Linked DNA regions of Homo sapiens. The protein of the gene in region 1 purifies or fractionates together with the protein of each later gene. This does not show direct contact. Each region holds a gene or a part of one and is shown in the gene's direction. Other genes may lie near its edges. The genes, in order: DNASE2B, FAT1, PON2, PPP2R5E, AMD1, CERCAM and PPP2R5D.

What was found.
Region 2: the proteins of DNASE2B (region 1) and FAT1 purify together in Homo sapiens (affinity purification with mass spectrometry, with the first as the bait; one large-scale study listed by BioGRID). This does not show direct contact.
Region 3: the proteins of DNASE2B (region 1) and PON2 purify together in Homo sapiens (affinity purification with mass spectrometry; 2 studies listed by BioGRID and IntAct, with this or other methods). This does not show direct contact.
Region 4: the proteins of DNASE2B (region 1) and PPP2R5E purify together in Homo sapiens (affinity purification with mass spectrometry; 3 studies listed by BioGRID and IntAct, with this or other methods). This does not show direct contact.
Region 5: the proteins of DNASE2B (region 1) and AMD1 purify together in Homo sapiens (affinity purification with mass spectrometry; 2 studies listed by BioGRID and IntAct, with this or other methods). This does not show direct contact.
Region 6: the proteins of DNASE2B (region 1) and CERCAM purify together in Homo sapiens (affinity purification with mass spectrometry; 2 studies listed by BioGRID and IntAct, with this or other methods). This does not show direct contact.
Region 7: the proteins of DNASE2B (region 1) and PPP2R5D purify together in Homo sapiens (affinity purification with mass spectrometry; 3 studies listed by BioGRID and IntAct, with this or other methods). This does not show direct contact.

The regions. Positions count from the first base shown.
Region 1 is NC_000001.11:84,404,984-84,408,483, forward strand, and holds part of DNASE2B (deoxyribonuclease-2-beta isoform 1 precursor), read left to right. Parts: intron 1-3,286; exon of another isoform or gene 3,287-3,453; coding exon 3,454-3,500. UniProt on the Homo sapiens protein: Hydrolyzes DNA under acidic conditions. Does not require divalent cations for activity. Participates in the degradation of nuclear DNA during lens cell differentiation.
Region 2 is NC_000004.12:186,615,857-186,619,356, reverse strand, and holds part of FAT1 (protocadherin Fat 1 isoform 1 precursor), read left to right. Parts: coding exon 1-1,649; intron 1,650-2,155; coding exon 2,156-2,352; intron 2,353-3,500.
Region 3 is NC_000007.14:95,418,029-95,421,528, reverse strand, and holds part of PON2 (serum paraoxonase/arylesterase 2), read left to right. Parts: exon of another isoform or gene 1-3,213; intron 3,214-3,500. UniProt on the Homo sapiens protein: Capable of hydrolyzing lactones and a number of aromatic carboxylic acid esters. Has antioxidant activity. Is not associated with high density lipoprotein.
Region 4 is NC_000014.9:63,393,378-63,396,877, reverse strand, and holds part of PPP2R5E (serine/threonine-protein phosphatase 2A 56 kDa regulatory subunit epsilon isoform), read left to right. Parts: intron 1-161; coding exon 162-292; intron 293-1,592; coding exon 1,593-1,652; intron 1,653-2,949; coding exon 2,950-3,058; intron 3,059-3,500. UniProt on the Homo sapiens protein: The B regulatory subunit might modulate substrate selectivity and catalytic activity, and might also direct the localization of the catalytic enzyme to a particular subcellular compartment.
Region 5 is NC_000006.12:110,893,999-110,896,213, forward strand, and holds the end of AMD1 (S-adenosylmethionine decarboxylase proenzyme), read left to right. Parts: 3' UTR 1-1,715; downstream 1,716-2,215.
Region 6 is NC_000009.12:128,427,357-128,430,856, forward strand, and holds part of CERCAM (inactive glycosyltransferase 25 family member 3 isoform a precursor), read left to right. Parts: intron 1-945; coding exon 946-1,065; intron 1,066-1,400; coding exon 1,401-1,477; intron 1,478-1,573; coding exon 1,574-1,680; intron 1,681-3,500. UniProt on the Homo sapiens protein: Probable cell adhesion protein involved in leukocyte transmigration across the blood-brain barrier. Does not express any beta-galactosyltransferase activity in vitro.
Region 7 is NC_000006.12:43,001,570-43,005,069, forward strand, and holds part of PPP2R5D (serine/threonine-protein phosphatase 2A 56 kDa regulatory subunit delta isoform), read left to right. Parts: intron 1-3,500. UniProt on the Homo sapiens protein: The B regulatory subunit might modulate substrate selectivity and catalytic activity, and might also direct the localization of the catalytic enzyme to a particular subcellular compartment.

The DNA.
Region 1 (3,500 bases):
ATAAGGAATTTTCATCTGCATTAAAAACCTGCTCAGGAAGAAATTATTTCCCCTCAATGATTTTCTTGATGGCATCTGGGAATTCATCTGCTGCCTCTTGGTCAGCAAAAGCTGCTTCTCCTGTTATCTTAATTTTTTTTTTTTTAGGCCAAACCTCTTTCTAAAATTGTCAAACCATCCTTTGCTGGTATTAAATTCTCCAGCTTTAGATGATCTACCTTCCTTCTGCTTTGTCATATAGTGACTTCACTTTTTCTCCAATCATATTAGAGTCTATAGTATTCCTTTCTTATAGCAATCTTGCACCCATATAAAAGCTGCATTTTAATTTTAAGTATGAGCTATAAAAGTATTTTGTAAAAAGTGCAAGGTTTTCATGCCTACTGGCATAGCTGCAGTGAGGGCTTCACAAATTTCCTTTTCTTTTTTCACAATGGCTCTTATGCTGGATTCACTTAACTTGAAATGGCAGGCAACTGAAGCTGCAGACCTCAATCCGCAGTACATATCAAGCAATTCAACATCTTCTTATAATGTCATGACTTGTCTTTGCTTGTTAGAAGCATTTCCAGCATCAGCAGTGGCACTCAGTATAGGTCCTACGGTTTTATTCAAGGTTTCTGATATTGCCCCAAACATGATGAAAAATATGCAAGAGCTGTGAGAGATCACTTTTGACTACAGTATGCAATTTACTGGAGAGAACTGCTCACGTGGAGGTTGTTAGTGTCATGTGGCATTTTCAGCAGATATTCACAAGACTTGAGCTCACCTCAATGGTGACAAAAGGTGGCTATAAAATTATTACAGTAGTACAGTATTACTACAGTTAATTTAATGCAGTTATGACTTAGTACTGCATATTTATGTTTGTTTATATTTCTTGACTGTGAATGGCACCATGTTTGGTCTATGTTTGTATATGTAAATTTTGATGAATTTTAACTTTTTATAATAGATTTGTGCATAGTTTAGGGCAGCAAATGAAAAAATAGACTAGTATCTACATATATTGTATGCATTCATAATGTATCTAACTTTTTCTTAATTTTTAAAAATATTTCTAGGCTATGTGGTTCATCTGTGAGTTTTTTTTTTCAAATTGTCAAAAATCTCCCCCTAAATTTTCCAACATATGTTTTTAAAGGCCTGCATACATATAGACCCATGCAGTTCAAACCCAAGGGCCAACCGTATTATATAAAATGAAAACGCCTGCAGCTGCTTCTGCTTTCCAGGTTGGGGATGGGGACCAGAAGCATATCTATTAGTGGGAAAATAATGCCTACATTGTTCCTTTCCACATCAACGAGACTGCTAGGGGAGGAAGAAGGAAAGAGCAACATTGTAAAGCCTCTATCATTTGCCTTAGTTGGAGTAGATAGGCCTTCACTTGCCGGAATACAATAATGATCTTTGAAGGTGCAAAGGTAGCCCCACACCCTAGCAGGGAGACACAGTTAAACTGCTCTGCTAAACAAAAAAGGGACAGAAAGAAGCCAGGGATTAAAAAGCATAAGAAACATGGAGAAAGACTGGGGTAAGGCCTTATGGTGATGTAAAACCATTCAATATTTCTTACCTTTAGTAAAACCTGCCACATGCAATGTCTTGAGTGATTGGTTCTGGGGGGAAAATGACAGGAAAGGGACTGATTTCCATGCCTGATTGGCATAGAGCCAAAAGAAGAGAGCAACAGCAGTTGGTGATATCCAGGTATGACTCAGTGTTCTTTGGAAGCTGGAATTATGTGCCAGAAGTGACTGTGAGAATATTACTCCTCCACCCCCTGACCTGGAATTGAACCTCTGACAGAGAGTGAAATGCAAGATTAGACCAACTGGTTTAAATCTCAAATGTGAAGGTGACCAAGGCCAATAGCTGGGTTACATTTGGAATTGTTTCCCTTCTCTTGCCTTTACAAATAAGAATCTTCCGTGTACCTTCATAAACATTTATCAAACTATATTGCCTGCACTTGTGTGACTATATTTTCTGCTAGACAGGGGGCAGAGACTGTACCCCTCTTGTTCAACACTCAATAGTCAAAACAATACTGAACATATGTGTTAAAGGAATAAAGCTATTCAAAGGCACATGCCTACATCTACCTACTCTTAAGTCCATGATCTTTTCCCTTTATCAATAGCCTCTCTTCCAACTAAGGCTACAATCCACTTAACCTCAGCTGGCAGTTACACTCAGTTAGAACAATAAACTTCATTTATCATAAAAAATAAATTCCTCACTGGATCATCCCAGAATTCCTCCATGTTGTACCCCAAAGGCACACAAATGGCCTCCTTACCACATTCAATGCAGGTTCACAGAGTAACTAACTCTTCAGAGTTCTCCAAATGATGATATGAATGCCATTCAGTAGCTATGATCAATTATGGAAAATGAAGGTAAGAAAACAGCTTACTTTTCGGGGCATTCCTAAGCACAGTAGACAAGAATGCTCCAACAGACTATGTTGTGCATTGAAAAAAAAATTTTATCACATCATATAATTAAGCAACTGTGAGAGGCTTCTTCATTGAATTTGTTTTCTAAGAAAAAAGCAAGGGCCTTTTTTAAGGACATAGGTTATCCTTTCCTGCTTTTAATTATGTCACTCAGATTTTTTTAATATTGACATTATTGGCTTCAATTAAAGTTGTATCATCACACAAATTAAATGGAACCACCTAGAACAAATATTAGCAAGTTTCTAAAACATGAAAAATAGATACTATCGAAATAATAGCTTTATTTTGGCTCTAAGATTTGGCTGTTTGAAAATTGACTCATATTTGGCCTTACCAGAGGAAATCCAATATCACACAGTAAATTTCACCACTTTTTTTAAGCAGGAAAATATCAAGTTGGAAAGGTGAAGTGACACTGAAAAATGGATTGCAGAAAAATCCTCTCATAATGGGAGGAAGGGAGAGCAGATAATGAGGGATCCTGATTAAACACAACGCTACTACCCAGCAGTGAAGTGAAGCACAAAGTGTGCAGAGAAAATCAGATCCTGACAGCCAGTTCTGCACTGTGCCTATAATATCAATGGAAAAAACCTCAGATGTAATCCTTGGTTGGTTGTTCCTACTTCATTTCCTGAACAAATAATTCAGTACTCCTTTATTATACACTGGTTGCTTAATCAGAAACTTGGTTCCAAAACAACCAAGAGAAATAGGAACATTGCCCTCACACACAGATCACAATGCACAGGGCTCCTGTCACATGAGTAAAAATCATGCACAGTTAAAAATGGACTTTCTTTCCCCTGTCTTTCATGTCACAGGCTTCATATTGATGGGGAAGCTGCCTATTAGGGGAATAGATGACTTCTCATGTGTATTAATGAAAGCAATGTATTGCAGGCTGGGTAGCTGGTAGAAATGTTGTGGGCGTTTGTAAGTGGAAGATTTACGCCATTATAACCCTAATATATTCCTGCAGAGTAACAACACAGCCTATCTAATATACAATGATGGAGTCCCTAAACC
Region 2 (3,500 bases), on another chromosome or scaffold:
CTGTGTAAAAGCCTATGATGCAGACAGTTCAGACATAGACAAGTTGCAGTATTCCATTCTGTCTGGCAATGATCATAAACATTTTGTCATTGACAGTGCAACAGGGATTATCACCCTCTCAAACCTGCACCGGCACGCCCTGAAGCCATTTTACAGTCTTAACCTGTCAGTGTCTGATGGAGTTTTTAGAAGTTCCACCCAGGTTCATGTAACTGTAATTGGAGGCAATTTGCACAGTCCTGCTTTCCTTCAGAACGAATATGAAGTGGAACTAGCTGAAAACGCTCCCCTACATACCCTGGTGATGGAGGTGAAAACTACGGATGGGGATTCTGGTATTTATGGTCACGTTACTTACCATATTGTAAATGACTTTGCCAAAGACAGATTTTACATAAATGAGAGAGGACAGATATTTACTTTGGAAAAACTTGATCGAGAAACCCCGGCGGAGAAAGTGATCTCAGTCCGTTTAATGGCTAAGGATGCTGGAGGAAAAGTTGCTTTCTGCACCGTGAATGTCATCCTTACAGATGACAATGACAATGCACCACAATTTCGAGCAACCAAATACGAAGTGAATATCGGGTCCAGTGCTGCTAAAGGGACTTCAGTCGTTAAAGTTCTTGCAAGTGATGCCGATGAGGGCTCCAATGCCGACATCACCTATGCCATTGAAGCAGACTCTGAAAGTGTAAAAGAGAATTTGGAAATTAACAAACTGTCCGGCGTAATCACTACAAAGGAGAGCCTCATTGGCTTGGAAAATGAATTCTTCACTTTCTTTGTTAGAGCTGTGGATAATGGGTCTCCATCAAAAGAATCTGTTGTTCTTGTCTATGTTAAAATCCTTCCACCGGAAATGCAGCTTCCAAAATTTTCAGAACCTTTCTATACCTTTACAGTGTCAGAGGACGTGCCTATTGGAACAGAGATAGATCTCATCCGAGCAGAACATAGTGGGACTGTTCTTTACAGCCTGGTCAAAGGGAATACTCCAGAAAGCAATAGGGATGAGTCCTTTGTGATTGACAGACAGAGCGGGAGACTGAAGTTGGAGAAGAGTCTTGATCATGAGACAACTAAGTGGTATCAGTTTTCCATACTGGCCAGGTGCACTCAAGATGACCATGAGATGGTGGCTTCTGTAGATGTTAGTATCCAAGTGAAAGATGCAAATGACAACAGCCCGGTCTTTGAATCTAGTCCATATGAGGCATTCATTGTTGAAAACCTGCCAGGGGGAAGTAGAGTAATTCAGATCAGGGCATCTGATGCTGACTCAGGAACCAACGGCCAAGTTATGTATAGCCTGGATCAGTCACAAAGTGTGGAAGTCATTGAATCCTTTGCCATTAACATGGAAACAGGCTGGATTACAACTTTAAAGGAACTTGACCATGAAAAGAGAGACAATTACCAGATTAAAGTGGTTGCATCAGATCATGGTGAAAAGATCCAGCTATCCTCCACAGCCATTGTGGATGTTACCGTCACCGATGTCAACGATAGTCCACCACGATTCACGGCCGAGATCTATAAAGGGACTGTGAGTGAGGATGACCCCCAAGGTGGGGTGATTGCCATCTTAAGTACCACGGATGCTGATTCTGAAGAGATCAACAGACAAGTTACATATTTCATAACAGGTAAAAAAAATTCATACCAAACGGTTTAATTAATTTAAAATGATTTTTAGAAGCATAAAGTATAAGATCTGTATTGTATGGAAATTGGGGATTTAAGGGATGATTTTAGTTAAAAATATCTAAAATAATACGTAGAAATAACATCTGTTGAGCCTCATTTCAAGCTTGTTACCTGAGCAAAGCTACCAGTTGTTTCATTAGACTGTTTTTGATTTTTGTGACTCATTCTTTTGAACCTTATACTTAGTGTATAATAAATATAATTAAAAACATCTATAGTTTTAATGCAGGCTAAATGATTAGTAGTCTTAATGCTATGTTTATGCATTTTAATGCTGCCCTTGTTTTTGTAAATTGGAAGGCTAATATATGCCAAATTAATTCTTTTAATACTCAATTCTTTTAAACTATAACATTATACATCTTTTGTACAGTTTATTTTTTCTGTTACTTATTTTTATCCTTTCAACAAATTTGATTATTATCTTCCTCCATTGATTTAATAGGAGGGGATCCTTTAGGACAGTTTGCCGTTGAAACTATACAGAATGAATGGAAGGTATATGTGAAGAAACCTCTAGACAGGGAAAAAAGGGACAATTACCTTCTTACTATCACGGCAACTGATGGCACCTTCTCATCAAAAGCGATAGTTGAAGTGAAAGTTCTGGATGCAAATGACAACAGTCCAGTTTGTGAAAAGGTAAGCAGCTCTTCCCTTACATTTGTGTGTTATGAATTTCAATTTCTTAATTCTTTCAATGGGACCATCATTTGGCGCTGTGGTGTAATTCACATGTGTTTTATGATCACTTACTGATTAAGCAGAGGTGTTAAATGGGGTAAGACTTGGAAAAGCTTCAGAACTATTTGCGGGAATGCTCAATAAATCAAAAGCCTCATTCTAGAAAACTAAATTACGGACAGGACTCCAGTTGCATCCAACACTGAAAATGCTCTGTAACCTTTTCATGAGGGGATTCTCTTAATATGGGGATACAGCTGTTTTGGGGGAAGGATCTGACGGGAAACAAAGTGCCGACGTGCCGTGAGACACTGTTTTGGGGGCATCTGCTCTTCTGCACGCTGGAGAAGCTCAGAGGTGGACAGCGTGCTTCCTGCATCTGCGCGGCTCACCATTCAGTGGGAACTAAAAGTAGACGTAGGAAGGGCTGCTCCCTCCAAGGTTAGATGAGGGCATGTGGCTCGAGCAGGGGTGGTCCCTGGGGCCAGAGGGTGAGAAGGGCTGCCCAGAGAAAGGGCTGGCTCAGCTTCGGGGGGCAGTAAGTGGGTCGTCAGGAGTGGGTGGGGAGGGGCCATGGAGTGTGAGGAGGGATTGTGGGAGTAGCCACTGAGTTTGCCAGAAGTGGGGAGTCTGCACTGAGAGTCTTGGAAAAGGGTGAACTGGATTACAGTGGGCAGTGGCGGTCGTTCCAAGGGATTTGAACTCGATCCTAGAGAAAATAGGGACTTTGGAGCCTTTTATATCGGTAAGGTAGAGATGACATGAGACGAGTTCTTAAGCTTAGTTTGGAAGCATCGTGCCCATTATTTAGACAGGGAGGAGTGGATGCAAGGGGGCCCTGGAAAGGCAGAGGTGGGGAAGGAGTGAAAGGACCAAAGCCACCACCGAGGAAGACCATCTGGTGTGACAGCCAGCCAGCATGCCATCGAGCCCGACTTTCTACATGAGTAGGGGGAGCGACCAAGGCCGTGGCAAAGAGGAGTCTGAGCCGGGGGCTGGTTTTAGAGGAGTTCCGTGTTGAGTTCCAATTCCAGTTTGCTAAAGTAATGAGACATACAGTTGACCATGTTTTTTAGACATTGAGAGATGGCGAGATGTTGGATGGG
Region 3 (3,500 bases), on another chromosome or scaffold:
TCCAGCTGCAATCAAGAAGAGCCCTCTCAGAACTGGTCACTCAGCAAAAGCCAGATGGCATTAGTAAAAGATGTTGGGCAAGGGTGGGAGTTTGGGCCAGTGATCTCTTAGGTTACTTTTGCTGCTGAGTTAATAATTGTCACATTATTAAACAGCCCTTGGCCCTGGGAAGCCCACCTTCTGTGAATACAAGTCTCAGAGTAGACAATAGGGCACAACCAGCCATGTTACATGACAGACTGCCAAGTGCATTCCTCTTACAACTCACTGGGATGGAGCGCTCCTCAGAGAAAAACAAGCCCAGCAACATTTGTATTCTGAACAGGCATCTGTCTATGTTTGTGACCTTTATGTTGTGATGTGTGTGAGCTGCTGTCTGGAATTGGAAAGAATGAGGAAATATGTCACCTATGGCCCCTCTTGTGAAGTGTTAAATGCCTCTGAGGCACTTCAAAAGGCAACAGAGCGGAGAGGATGAGTGATTAGAAGCACATTTGGGATACATTTTTAGATCTAATTAGAATTGTCCTTTTTTTTTTCTTTTTTGCTTTTGCCCTGTGGTTAGCACACACCATATGAACGTTTGTCGAATGCTATGTTAGTGATGCATAATGGTTAATAATAACTTTTGGTTATATATCTTTAACAACAGTTGCTTATTCACAGGTCTTTGATAAGAAGAAATAACAATGTGCTGGACACACATTTCTATACAGGCAAAAGTGACTTTTTATGATAGAGAGGGCTGTTTCTTATTTTCTGTTTTGAAAACAGTAGTAGCTATGCACTTGAGGCCAACTAATCCCTCTAAGAGGTGAACCTTCCTTCCCCCTTGCCCTTGATTCCCATCAACACACACATACATATGCACACACTACCGTGCTTCAGTCACCATCACTGGAAGTGAACTATGTGCAACTTTTGGGTGCTTTATATATATCATATCATATTGTGTCTGCTTTAATAAATCATAGTTATTGACTACATATCATACAGGATGTGTGCCTTCTGTGGGTCAGAAAATAAGTTCACTATTTAGTCCTTTTCAAAAATTCCTTCCCGATCTATCTTATAGACAGAAACTAAGCTTTTATACACCCAAGATTTGGCAGATTAACATCTGCATATTAAAATGTCAAGAGCTAGTTAACTTTATTTGAGGCTTAAAAGTTAAAAAATCTGATTTTCTAAATGTCTGGCCTTCAAAATTTGAGTGGACTGTCTTTCTCAAGATAACTAACAATTTTATGCACTTGGCAGTCAAGACCTTTACAATAACTGCTGCTTGGGAGATTGAGGGGAAAAAAGCATTAAAGTTTGTGGCCCTTATAATCAAGTACTTTACAGTCTACTGATGGGAGAAAAGGAAAACAAAACAAAACAAAAAACCACTGTGAGATATAGATATGTCTTTTCTTTCTCTAGCAGATAAGTACCTGAGGCTCAAGGAGGTTAAGCAACTTTTGCAAATTCACTTTCCAATATAGTGTCTTTTCCCAGGGTGACTAATGTATATACTTGATGAGTGAACCAGAAAAGTAGGAAATAATATGTTACATATGGGATGCTCTATTGGGTATAGTAAAGGATGCGTTGCTGTTATAAAATTATAGTCACTTAGAAAAGAGATGTTTATTTTTATTTTTCTCTCATCAGTCTTAAGGTAAGTGAATGGCCTAGGGTAGTTAGGTGACTGTGTTCCATATGGTCATTCAGGGGCAAATGCTGATGAAGCAACACAGCTGTCTTCATCTAAGACTAGAACTCTGCTTGTTGCCATTTCCCAGCAGGAAGGGGTTGAAAGAAAATTTATGTAGATTTTTTTTTCTACCCAGTAGTTGCATATATATTGTATTCTCACATCCTATTGACCCAAACTTAGACATATGGCCACATCTGTCAGCCAGAAAGGGTGGGCAATGTTATCTATAGCTGTGTTGCTACGTGCCTATTGCTAAAAAGGCTAAAAAGGAAGAAGGGGAACATGGATGCTGGTGAACACTTGGCCACCTCTGACACAGATAATTGCTAAAGTAATAAGAAGAGATGGAAATTAAATGTGCTAAGCTAGGAGACTTTCTAAAGAAAGGGTTTGTCATGCTACGCTGTGCCATTCATGTGTTTTTTTGCTCATGCTGTTCCTTGTGCCTGGAAATTCTCCCCCTAATTCCCCTGAGCAGTGGATGCAGTGGATACCCTCCCCAGATCCCCCCCAACTTCCCTGAGTGTTGGCTACCAAAAGCTCTGAGTGCACCCAGGGAGCTAAGTCCTCCTGCCCACAGGCAATAATGGACTGACACGGGGTAGACTTAAAGAAATAAGAGGCACATCAATCAATTGAAATGTGTGGGACCTTACCTGGACTCTGAATTAAACAAACTGTAATTTTTTAAAGCTACACCTTTTAAACATGATTGGCTATTTGAACACTAACTAGATATTTGATGATATTGAGGAATTATTGTGAATTTTTAGTGTAGTAATGATATTGTGGTTTGTATAAATATATTTAGGGATAATATGATGCCTCAGATTTGCTTTAAAATAACACAGGATGAGGATAAGTGGTAGGACTGCAAGGGAAACAAGACTGGCCATGAGCTGATAACTGTTGAAGGTGGGTACTGGGTATATAAGGGCTCACCACACCATTCTCTTGATTTGTGTCTATTTCCCATAATAAAAAGTTTAAAGAGAGAGAACCGATGAAGGGGAGGGAGAGAGTCAAGCACACAATAAGAGTGACAAACAGTGCCAAATCAGCCCACAGTATTAAGTTTTCACATATTTACATAAATATCACCTGGAATGCAATATTGAAATTAATGTATATCACTAGAATAAAAAAAGTAAAGATTTAATAAATTTGTTTTGAAATAAAATAAGTTGAAATACGAAAAAGACAGAAAAGGTTTTGAAAGAGGTTTTAAAGAAAAGTGCAGGATATTCATTGGTAAAGATGTTGGTGAGAGGCTTGGAAGCAAAACTTCAGGGGAAAAAGACAACATATGGAATTGACCACAATTGAATTTACAAGTGAAGTGGCTTTACAGAGGAATCAGGGGATGTTTCTGAGAGAGGAAATTCATTAAATTCTAACTTGAATATTTTCTGTTTGCCTTTAAGTCAGAGCAAAGGCTTTGAGTCCCAGCTTCCCAGTTTGTGACCTTGAGCAATTGCTTAACTTTTCCAAAGCCTCCAATAGTCTTCACTCTAAAATAAAAGATAATCATATGAGATATTGTATGCAGGGTATTTACAAGGAGCCTGGTACTTGGTGTACCTAATGTATGTTAGTTATTATTATTAAATTAGAGGAGCAAAAATTTCTCTAGCATTGACTGCTCCTGACATAATCACACCGAAGAGGGGATACACGATGATAAAACCTTCCTGCAGTAGTGGCTATAGAAATGATGACGGGGAGAAGATCTGGAAAATATTCCAAAGAAGGCTACAGATAGATACATTTTTTCCATTGGAATTAGGCAATGGAGTTA
Region 4 (3,500 bases), on another chromosome or scaffold:
TTGTTTATCATGATATGCCCAAAGACTAGCACTGTGCTTGGCACATAATAGATATTCAACACATTTTTTGAGGAAGGAAGAAGGGGATTTTAAATAATAGAATTCCTAAATCCTTTTCTGAAACCGCCTTTGACAGCTATAATGTCTTTCATTTACAACAGCTTCTGGAGCTATTTGACAGCGAAGACCCTCGGGAACGGGACTACTTAAAAACAGTCTTACACAGAATTTATGGCAAGTTTCTTGGTCTTAGAGCATTTATCCGAAAACAGATTAACAATATTTTTCTAAGGTAAGTGGAGTGTGATGGGGGAAGAAGGAGAAGCAAAGTTGGTGTTTTTATGAGTATTAAGTAAATCTCAAATATCTGAAAACGGTGTACTGACTTCTCTTTCTCCCTTTCTGCCTGCCTTCCTTCATTCTACTGACTCTCCTGCCTCTTCCTCTACCCCCTCCCCCTCCTCTCCTCCCCCATCTTCTCCTCTCCTCCCCCATCTTCTCCTCTCCTCCCCCATCTTCTCCTCCCACCCTCCTCTTCCTCCTCTTTTCCTCTTCCTCTCCCTCCTCCCCCCACTGCTTCTTCTCTATCCCTCCTCTCCCCCTACTTTCCCCCTCCTCTTCCCTCTCCCCTGCTTTTCTCCTCCCCCTTCTCCTCCTCCCCCATCTCCTCCTCCTCTCCTCTTTTCCTCTCCTCTCTCCTCCTCCTCCTCTATCCCCTGTCCTCCTCCTTTCTCCCTCCCTCTCCTCCTCTCCTCCCCGCTCTCCTCCTCTCCTGCCCCCTCCCCCTTCTCCTCTTTTCCTCCCTCTCCTCCTCTCTTCCCCCACCTCTCCCTCCCCCATCTTCCCCCTCCCCTCTCTTCCCCCCTTCTCCTCTCCTCCCCCGTCTCTTCCCTCCTTTTCTCCCCCTCCCCCTTCTCCTCCTCTTCTCCTCCCTGTCCTCCTCTCTTCCCCCACCTCTCCCTCCCCCATCTTCCCGCTCCCCTCCTCTCTTCCCCCCTTCTCCTCTCCTCCCCGACTCCTCTCTTCCCTCCTTTTCTCCCCCTCCCCCTCCTCCTCCTCTCCTCCTCCCTCTCCTCCTCTCTTCCCCCCATCTCTCCCCCGTCTCCTCCTCTCTTCCCCCCTCCTCCTCCCTTTTCCCTCTGCTCCTCCTCCCTTCCACCCTCTCCTCCCCCCTCTTCTCCCCTCTCTCCTCCGCTCTTCCCTCCTCTCCTCCCCCTCTCTCCCCATCTTCTCCTCCCTCTCCTCTCTTCCCCCATCTCTCCCCCATCTCCTCTCTTCCCCTCTCTCCTCCTCTCTTCCCTCCTCTCCTCCTCTCTTCCCTCCTCTCCTCCTCTCTTCCCTCCTCTCCTCCTCCTCTCTTCCCTCCTCTCCTCCTCCTCTCTTCCCCCCTCCTCTCCTCCTCCTCTCTTCCCCCCTCCTCCTCCTCCTTCTCTCTTCCCCCTTGTCCTCCCTCTCCTCCTCTCTTCCCCGCTCTCCTCCTCCTCCTCCTCTTCTCCTCCTCCTCCCCCTTCTCCTCCTCCTCCTCCTCTTTTTATCCCTTCCTTCTCCTCCTCCTCTCCTCCTTTCTCCTCCCTTTTCTCCTCTTCTCTCAGGTTTGTTTATGAAACAGAACACTTCAATGGTGTAGCTGAACTGCTGGAAATATTAGGAAGGTGAGCACGGTTTTTCTAATTGCTAATCTCAGATGAATATTATTTTAAAAATTAGGTTCAGGTGGCACCAAGAGATGCTCACCTAGTTCTCTTGCTGTATGTACATTGGGTCTCTCTCATTTGTGCCTATTAGCATATTTTCCAGCTGACTCTACAAGACACAATTTCCTGTTCCCCTTGTTCCACAAGTATGCATTGCCATTTCCACTGGAATGACTGAAAGAGCTGACAGTTCATTCATTACTAGAAAGATGGTACATCTAATTGTGGTCAGGCTAGTTACTCCAAAACATCTTATTCTCATTAGTTTTTAGGCTATCTGGTCCTTTGCCTTATCTGTTGAAAGCAAGTTTATAATAAATTGGAAAGATTGCCATTTTCAAAGGAGTTGTGTATCCAGGTATAGTCCTTGAACAGCTGCAGCCTGGAGTAGTGGAATGAATTGGAAAGAGCTGTGGTGTAAGTTTCTACACACAAGGGAGGATAATGTAGCTGGACAATATGATTACTTAATCTTTTCTCCTAATATGAAGAGAAAAAGAAGGTGGAGTCACATGGCTTTCTCTCAGTGATTTCCCTAGGCTGGGCAGAGGTTTCAGGAATGAGAAGGAATGATGTCTGGAAATGGAAAAGGTCATATTTAAGGCGGAAGCAAGCAAGGCGGGCCATTATTTGGAGAAGGAAAAGGGAGGGAAAATAAAGGGTTTTGATAAAGAGCTTTTGGAAACCATCTGACTAATTTTAGGAGCACAGGAGCCTTTGTTGGGTGACCAGAAGCAAATTTTCTTCTCTTAAATTTCCTTCCAACTTTTTGTATTCCTTGAAGTCATTAAGAAATCCTGGCTGGGTGTGGTGGCTCACGCCTATTATCCCAGCACTTTGGGAGGCCAAGGTGGGCAGATCATTTGCAGTTAAGAGTTCTAGACCAGTCTGGACAATATGGTGAAACTCCTTCTCTACTAAAAATACAAAAAAATTAGCCAGGCATGGTGGTGGGTGCCTGTAATCCCAGCTACTTGGGAGGCCTGAGGCATAGGAATAGCTTGAATCCCGGAGGCGAAGGTTGCAGTGAGCTGAGATTGGGCCACTGCACTCCAGCCTGGGCAATAGAGCAAGATGACTCTGTCTCAAAAAAAAAAAAAAAAAAAAAAAAAAGGAAATTCTGAATGCCACTGGGGTGGGTATTATGTTGTTTTGTACAAACAAACTGATTAAGTTTAATTAATATCACAAGAACAGTTTGTCTCAGTTCAACTTGTGGTAACATTGCTAATTTGTGTCTCTTTTTTCTCCCTAGTATTATCAATGGCTTTGCTTTACCTCTTAAGGCAGAACACAAACAGTTTCTGGTGAAAGTATTGATCCCTTTACACACTGTCAGGAGCTTATCACTCTTCCATGCACAGGTAGGAGGATTTTGTACAACTACTTTTAGAAGCAAAATAAAAAGTTTGCAAACTCGTTTTTTTGATATTGATATAACCTTCATTTTGTTTTTTTGGTTTTTGTTTTTTGAGACGGAGTCTTGCTCTGCCGCCCAGGCTGGAGTGCAGTGGGACAGTCTTGGCTCACTGCAGCCTCCACCTCCCGGGTTCAAGCAATTCTTCTGCCTCAGCCTCCCGAGTAGCTGTGACTACAAGCGCACGCCACCATGCCCAGCTAATTTTTGTATTTTTAGTAGAGACGGGGTTTTACCATGTTGGCCAAGATGGTCTGGGTCTTCTGACCTCATGATCCGCCCACCTTGGCCTCCCAAAGTGCTGGGATTACAGAGGTGTGAGCCACGGCGCCGGGCCTATCGCCTTCATTCCCAAAGGAAAGAGACTTACTTAAGTTTAAAATACTCCC
Region 5 (2,215 bases), on another chromosome or scaffold:
AGGTGTTGGCCTCAGCCTAACCCTCTAGGACTGTTCTATTAAATTGCTGCCAGAATTTTACATCCAGTTACCTCCACTTTCTAGAACATATTCTTTACTAATGTTATTGAAACCAATTTCTACTTCATACTGATGTTTTTGGAAACAGCAATTAAAGTTTTTCTTCCATGAGTTGAGTCCTTAAGAAAATGATTCCAGTTACTCATTTTGCATATTTGCTATTTTAACATTATTGGACCCTGCATTTATAGTCCTTTGATTTCTTCCCTCTCCCTGGTGTCTCCCCCAAGACCCCAAATAAAGCAATACACTGTTAACACTGTGGGTTTATATACTAATTCTATACCCCAGATGGGGAATGGGGGAGATGGTCCCTGGGCTTAATATTCTTTAAAGGGCATGGGAATTTAGCCTCTCTTTTATTGTAATGTGCTCTTTTGGAAAATAGTTGGTTAGCAGGGAAGACCCAGAGTTGTAGATTGAGATTAGGGTGTACTGGCTGAACTGTGGAAAACATACAATTCTGTGTTCCTCAGTAAATGAGATTAGCGTCTAATGAGTAGCACCCCTTTACTAACTTAGTAGTAGTATAAAATCATTTTTATTTAGTTAATTACCAGAGAGATTTAGCATAATTTTGTTCTGGATTCAGTAAATCAAGTCAGCTTGGATCATTCACCTTAACTTTTCCTTTAGCAGCCATTTCCACTAGTTTCCATTAAGTAGTGTTCTATAAACTTTGATCCAAAGCAGAATCAATGTCTTTTCCATCTCGTGACTTAAAGTTCTGTGACTGTGATGCATGTGAGTGTTCCGACTTCATCTGTTCCTCTTAACTACGGTGTTTCCCTTACCATGGCATTCATAGGATGAAATGAATGACTGCCCAGAATGAGAATTTGTCCAGATTATTCAGATAAACATCATAAAGCAGAATACATTATAAATAAGTAGAATATGAATAAATAGAATAATAAAATTCCAAAATACTCAATGGGAAATGACTAGTAATATAGGCTTTCAAGAGTTGGTACCTTTTAGCTATATTTGCAGATTCTCTGGGATTTTAAGGAACTGAGAAAACAGCAAAGTTGACTAAATTTTATATTTCTTGTCCTCTAAATATTTTGATAATTTCTGGATTGATGCAGTGATGTTTTTGTTCCTTCCGTATTTATAAATGAAACACCTTTTTTTAGTGTTTCTAAACCTAAAATCTACTTGGTTTGAAATCAAGTGGTTGGAACACTGTTTGACTTTTATTTGAAGCATGTTGTTGATTGAAAATTTCATTGAGGAAGTTTTCAATCAGTGTGATCAGTTTGATTCTGTAATGAGCACAGCACCTAATATTTTGAGGAGCTCTGTTTTGAGGACCAATGCTTAAGGTGGACTTTGTTCGTAAACAATATCCCAATAGATTTGTTGACTTGAGGTCTGGTTTGGTTTTGTTTTTGTTTTGTTTTGTTTTGTTTTGTTTCCAATAGAATTAAGAATTCTAATGTTGAAAAACTGCACAAATTTTTATGGGACAAAGCCTAGAAAAGAGAAATGTAGTTTGAATCATAATCTAAATCATCGTATGATAGAAGAGGGAAAGTTTTGGTGCCATAATTTCTCCTTTCACTGGTGTTGGACTTAAATCAGTTGAAATGTATTTCTGTACCACAATTTACGCTTCAATAAAAGTTTAATTGTCTAGTGACATTCAGAAACTTTTCTGTTGCCCTGTTTTTTAAGTAGCCTACTTGACCAAATACTACATGTCTGAAGTTTAAAATCAATACAACAATGTGTATTTATGAGTTTGGAGTTAGACAGAAGTTTAAAAGTGTTAGGTCCCAACCTTTATTATAGACTAGACTCTTAAAACATTGGTTGAGGATGATCAAACTCAAATAAGTTTCCTTATTTCATTCATGGTTATTTCTATTAAGTAGAAAAAAATTTATAACCTTGATCATTTTCTTTATTTTTTTTAATTTAGGATCTTGTTCTGTTGTCTAGGCTGGAGTGCCGTGGCTGTTAACAGGTGCGATCATAGCATACTGCTTCCTTGAACTCCTAGGCTCAAGCAGTCTTGCTGCAGCTTCCCAAGTAGCTGGGAATGCAGGGTTCTGCCATCACACTTGGCTTTGTCATTTTCTTTATTTGGCAACATTTTAGTTCCACAGTCAAATATGTAATAAGCTGAAAAATCTTATGAAAATGTATA
Region 6 (3,500 bases), on another chromosome or scaffold:
CCTGCCTGGGCTTCCCAAAGTGCTGGGATTACAGGCGTGAGCTACTGTGCCCCGCCTAGGTTAGCTTTTTAATTGGCACTGTGTGCCTGCCCCTGAGGATAATTATAATAAAGGTAACAAATATTGGCCGGGTGCAGTGGCTCACGCCTGTAATCCCAGCACTTTGGATGGCCTAGGGTGGGTGGATCACTTCAGGCCAGGAGTTCGAGACCATCCTGGCCAACATGGCGAAACTCCGTCTCTACTAAAAATACAAAAATTAGCTGGATGTGGTGGTGCACACCTGTATTCCCAGCTACTCAGGAGGCTGAGGCAGGAGAATTGCTCAAACCTGGGAGACAGAGGTTGTAATGAGCCAAGATCGCACCATTGCACTCCAGCCTCGGTGACAGAGCAGGACTCCATCTCAAAAAAAAAAAAAAGGTAACAAATATTGAAGCCGGGGGAAGGCCACTCTGGCTGCCAGGTGAAAGACATCGTGGAGAGGAGCCCCAGAGGGTGTGAGGTGAAGTGGAGGGGTGTGGGGAAAAGGCGATGGCCCTTGGATCCAGGTGGGGTGGTGGGGATCAGGAGAGGTGGGGGGATTTAGGAGACAGAGCAGTGGGGCTCACTGGCACCCTGTGGCTGTGATGGGTAGGAGTTTGTCTGCTCCTGCCTCACCTTGATGCCCTGAGGGCAGGGACTCAGTCTTGCTCACTGCCGTAACCCTGGCTCCCAGCGGGTGCCCTGGACAGGTATATTGAATGAATGAACCATTTCAGTAGAAAGACCCCTTAGATATTGTGTGAGCCAAGCCCTTTCTCCCTCTGGTCCCACAGGTGGGGAAACTGAGTCCCAGAGAAGACTGACATGTTGGGTCACTGGCAGTGCTGGGCCTAGGACCTTTCAGCTGGGTTCTGAGAGCCCCACCCTCCACTGCAGCTCTCACTCAGCCTGTCTCTGCAGGGGTCTCCGTCCACGTGTGCAATGAGCACCGTTATGGGTACATGAATGTGCCGGTGAAATCCCACCAGGGGCTGGAAGACGAGAGGGTCAACTTCATCCACCTGATCTTAGAAGCACTAGGTGAGGGCTGGGGAACTGTTCCACCCACCTGCTGCCGGGGCTCCCTGCCTCCCCACGGTGCCCCTTTCCCTAGGCCCTGGACGGAGCGGGCATTGGCCTTGGGGTTCCAGCTTTGTCCCTAACTCGTTCCATGACTCTGAGAAAGTCCCTTTCCCTGTTGGGCCTTAGTCTAGCATCCCTACAATGGGGGCAGGTGGATCCTGTGATCTCTGAGGTCCCGTCCTGTGGGGTGTTCTGCCAAAGGGGGCAGGAATGAGGCTGGGGGCTAGGACTTCAGGGTGACTGCTAACAGGAGTCAGTAGGGACTCGTGCTTGGGGTGTGCTTCCCTTTGCAGTGGACGGCCCCCGCATGCAGGCCTCAGCTCATGTGACTCGGCCCTCTAAGAGGCCCAGCAAGATAGGGTTTGACGAGGTAAGTCCCCCAGCCTGTGGGCTCGCTGTTAGGAGGTGGATGGGCCCTCCTCTTCCGCTCCCTTGCACTTACCGCCCACCCCCCTGCCTCCTCCAGGTCTTTGTCATCAGCCTGGCTCGCAGGCCTGACCGTCGGGAACGCATGCTCGCCTCGCTCTGGGAGATGGAGATCTCTGGGAGGGTGGTGGACGCTGTGGATGGCTGGTGAGCCTGCCTGGTGGGGGGGGCCCTGTGCGCTTGGGGAAGCAGTGTGGTCCATCTCCTAGCCCGCTAGGACTGGGAAAAGCAGACAGGTTGAATGAGTTTCCTGTCCCATGTAGTATCCAAATAGGGTCTGAGTAATATCCTCTCAGGGAGTTCCGGAGCAGACACACGTGGGAGAAGATGCCCTCCTGCTGCTCACCAGAGGAGGAGAGCACAGTGGCTGAGGCTCCAGGGCCTGGGTTCCAGCTCTACCAGTTACTGAATGTGTGACCTCCAGCCAGCTACCCCCATCTCTCAGCCCGTTTGTATAAACAGCAGATAACTGTGCCCTTCTCTTAGGGTTTTGTGAGTTTAGTGAAGTTAGCCAGGGCCGGGCACATAGTTTCCAAAGGCTTAGGTGTCTCCCTTATTATTACTCTCCATCCTGGACTTGAGCTACTGATGCGTGGGGATTAGGAAAGGCCAGCCATGTTCCCCCGAGGAACCCAGAGGCTAGGCTTCTCCAGCCACCAGGGGTCCTATGGCCCCATATGTCGGCTGCCATTTGCTTCAAGTACTCAGCTCTTTTTATTTTTTTTTTAGAGACAGCGTCTCCGTCTGTTGCCCTCCGTCTGTTGCCCAGGCTGGAGTGCGGTGCCACAAACATGGCTCACTGCTGCCTTAAACTCCTGGGCTCAAGTAATCCTCCCACCTCAGCCTTCTGAGTAACTGGGACTATAGGTGTGCACTATCACATCCAGCTAATTAAAAAGAATTTTTTTTTTTTTTTGAGGCAGAGTCTCGCTCTGTCGCCCAGGCCTGGAGTGCAGTGGCGCAATCTTGGCTCACTGCAACATCCGCCTCCCAGGTTTTAAGTGATTCTCCTCCCTCACCTCCCAAGTAGCTGTGATTACAGGCTTGCATCACCACACCCGGATTAAAAAAAATGTTTTGTTTTGTTTTTTTTTCATAGAGATAGGGTCTCACTCTGTTGCCTAGGCTGGTCTTGAACTCCTGGCCTCAAGTGACCGTCCTGCCTCAGCCTCCTGAATAACGGACTACAGGCATGCACCACCATGTCCACCTAATGAAAAAAAATTTTTGACTGGGCACGGTGGCTCATGCCTGTAATCCCAGCACTCTGGGAGGTTATGGATGGATCACCTGAGGTCAGGAGTTCGAGACCAGCCTGGCCAACCAACATGGTGAAACCCCCTCTCTACTAAAAGTACAAAAATTAGCCAGGTGTGGTAGTGGGTGCCTGTAATCTCAGCTACTTGGGAGGCTGAGTCAGGAGAACTGCTGGAACCCAGGAGGCAGAGGTTGCAGTGAGCCGAGATTGTGCCATTGCACTCCAGCCTGGGCCGACAACAGTGAGACTCTGTCTCAAAAAAAATTTTTTTTTTGAGAGATGGGGTTTTTCTCTGTTGCCAAGGCTGGTCTTGAACTCCTGGCCTCAAGCAATCCTCCCACCTTGGCCTCCCAAAGCACTGGGATTACAGGTGTGAGACACCACATCCCCCGAGGTCTCTTGACCATAGGCTATCCATCCTTTGCTTGGGCCTCTGCCCAAGAAGTATCTATCATGTTCCCACATTCTTCCTAGAGTGCCTCCCCCTCAGGCAGCCCCCTACCATCCCACCCTTTCCTCAAGGGTCACCCCTGTCTTATCATATTAGGACATGTCCTAATAGTTATCCTCTCAGAACTCCCGAGGTGGCTGGGCGTGGTGGCTCATGCCTGTAATCCCAGCACTTTGGGAGGCTGAGGTGGGTGGATCACCTGAGGTCAGGAGTTCGAGACCAGCCTGGCCAACATGGTGAAACCCCATCTCTACTAAA
Region 7 (3,500 bases), on another chromosome or scaffold:
GTAGAAGGTACCTCTTATAAAATGCTTCTTTAGGGCTGGGCACGGTGGCTCACACCTGTAATCCCAGCACTTTGGGAGGCTGAGGCGGGCGGATCATGAGGTCAGGAGATCGAGATCAGCCTGGCTAACATGGTGAAATTCCGTCTCTACTAAAAATACGACAAAAAATTAGCCGGGCGTGGTGGCACGCACCTGTAATCTCAGCTACTCCGGAGGCTGAGGCAGGAGAATTGCTTGAACCCGGGAGGCAGAGGTTGCAGTGAGCTGAGATTGCGCCACTGCACTCCAGCCGGGTGACAGAGCCAGACTCTGTCTCAAAAAAAAAAAAATGCTTCTTTAGTGCGTGACAGAGCCAGACTCTGTCTCAAAAAAAAAAAAAATGCTTCTTTAGTGCGAGGAACTGTTCATCTCTATCCTTACGATAGTGCTATAAGGTAGGTATGGTTGTCATCCCATTTTGTAGATGAGAAAACTGAGGTGCAGACTTTCTGGATATTACTCAGCTAATAAGTGGCGAGCCAGGATTGAACCCAGGCAGGCAGTCTGGCCCAAGGTGTTATTGAGCACCAAGCTCCACAGATAAGGGTTTGGTTGTTCTTTTTTTTTTTTTTTGATTCGGAGTCTCGCCCTATCACCCAGGCTGGGGTGCAATGGCATGATCTCAGCTCACTGCAACCTCTGCCTCCCGAGTTCAAGAGATTCTCCTGCCCCAGCCTCCCGAGTAGCTGAGATTACAGGCACGTGCCACCACGCCCAGCTAATTTTTTGTATCTTTAGTAGAGGCAGGGTTTCACCATGTTGGCCAGGCTGCTCTCAAACTCCTGACCTCGTGATCCGCCCGCCTCTGCCTCTCAAAGAGTTGGGATTACAGGTGTGAGCCACCGTGCCTGGCCTAGTTGTTCTTAAGGCAGGGAAATGGAGGCCTGAGGCAGAGGAGTGTCTGGATACACACCAAGTGCTGGCCCCCAACCTGCTTTTCTCTTACTACCACTTCCCCCACCCCAAGGTGCAACTCATCTGCCATATGTAGAAAGGGAGACCTCAGACCTCCAGATGCCTTGCCATGTCTAATACACGGGACCCACAGGCTGGACCCGGTGCTCCTCTCCTGTTCTCTCATCCCTAGATAGGTGACAAGTCCACATCATTGTTTTTATAAAAAATTCAGAGGATGCAATTAATAACATTTCTGTCTTCCTTCCCTCCCCCACCCCAGAGGATTTCAAGTTCTTCTATTATTATGGTAAGGAGTAAGAGTTTGGGATGGGAGCTGGAGAGGAGCGGGAGATGGCAGGTATGAGGCCAAGAGGTCACCTTTCCCTTTCCCTGTGGTGAGGGTACCCAGCTGGACATGGCCTCTGCCTAGTCCTATTCTAGACTCTGTTTGGGGGCAAGGGCTGTCCTGTGGTTTAGCTTCTTTCCTCTCCCAACAGGGGGCTGCCTGGACAGTCCAGGAGTACCTGTGGGCAGACAGCCCTGCAAATACCTGTATTTAGACTTCTGAAAATGGACTTCATGGGGCTGTAACACCTGTGTCTGGGAGCTATGCCTTTAAAAAGGGATAGCTTTTAGGCTGGGCACGGTGGCTCACACCTGTAATCCCAACACTTTGGGAGGCCGAGGCAGGTGGATTAATTTAGGTCAGGAGTTCAAGACCAGCCTGGCCAACGTGGAGAAACCCCATCTCTACAAAAAATACAAAAAGTAGCTGGCATGGTGGCGGGTGCCTGTAATCCCAGCTACTCGGGAGGCTGAGGCAGGAGAATCACTTGAACCTGGGAGGTGCAGGTTGCAGTGAGCCAACATTCTGCCACTGCACTCCAGCCTGGATGACAGAGCGAGACTCCATCTCAAAAATAAATAAATAAAATAAAAATAAAAAGAGATAATTTTAAAAATTAGCTGCATTTCTCCCATTATAAAAGCAGTATCATACTACACAATGGAAGTAAGGCAGAAAAAAAGCAGTGTCAGCTTGTAGAAAATTTAGAAATGCAGAAGTAATCTAATTCTACTACAGGAGATAGTCATTAACACAGTGGTGGACTTGGGCTTGTTCTTACCTTTTCTGAACCTCGTTTTTGGTTCTGTGCATGTGTTTTAATGTGAGCGAGCTCATTTTGTGTATCTAGTTTTGTACTGTATTTTTTTTTTATGTATGTATGTATGTATTTATTTATTTTTTGAGACGGCGTCTCGCTGTCTCCCAGGCTGGAGTGCAGTGGCGTGATCTCGGCTCACTGCAAGCTCCGCCTCCCGGGTTCACGCCATTCTCCTGCCTCAGCCTCCCGAGTAGCTGGGACTACAGGCACCCACCACCACGCCCGACTAATTTTTTGTATTTTTAGTAGAGACGGGGTGGATGGTCTCGATCTCCTGACCTCGTGATCTGCCCGCCTCGGCCTCCCAAAGTGTTGGGATTACAGGCGTGAGCCACCGCGCCCGGCCTGTGTATTTACTTTTTGAAGATGGAGTCTCGCTCTGTCGCCCAGGCTGGAGCTGGAGTGCAGTGGCATGAGCTCAGCTCACTGCAACGTCCGCCTCCTGGGTTTGAGCAATTCTCTTGCCTCAGCCTCCCAAGTAGCTGGGACTACAGGCACCCACCACCAGGCCTGGCTAATTTTTTGTATTTTAGTAGAGACAGGGTTTCACTGTGTTGTCCAGGCTGGTCTCAAACTCCTGAGGTCAGGCAATCCACCTGCCTTGGCCTCCCAAAGTGCTGGGATTACAGGCGTGAGCCACCGCACTTGGCCTTGTACTATCATTATTTAACTTAGCATAGGAAGCAATTTTCTGTCATTATGTAGTTTTAGGCCTTTTGTTTTATTTCAAAATTTTATCAGTATGATAACACATACATTGTTCAGATATTACTACTATTGGGGTTGGAATGCAACTCTTAGCTCTTTCCTCATTAGATTCCTTTAGATTTTCACATTAGATTCTTTTCCTACTTTAGATTAGATTCCTTTAGATTTTCACATTGGATTCTTTTCCTACTTTTTTTTTTTTTTTTTTGAGATTTAGATATTATCAATTGACTTTCTACCATGGAAAATAAGTCCTCATCATTCTTATGCCTTTCTGCAGACATTTCCCTTCCTCCAAAAATACCACCATTTTGGGCAAATTACTATGAACGTGAAAATATTTTTTACAACTAAACTATGTATTACATAGTTTTCTTTTCTTTTTTTTTTTTTTGAGGCAGAGTCTCACTCTGTCATCCAGGCTGGAGTGCAATGGCGCAATCTTGGCTCACTGCAACCTCCTGGGTTCAAGTGATTCTCCTGCCTCAGCCTCCCGAGTAGCTGGGATTACAGGCACCCGCCACCACACCCGGCTAATTTTGTATTTTTAGTAAGAGATGGGGTTTCACCTTGCTGGCCAGCTGGTCTGGAACTCCTGACCTCAAGTGATACACCCACCTTGGCCAAAGTGCTGGGATTACAGGCATGAGCCACTCACTGCACCTGGCCCATAGTTTTTATAAACATAAT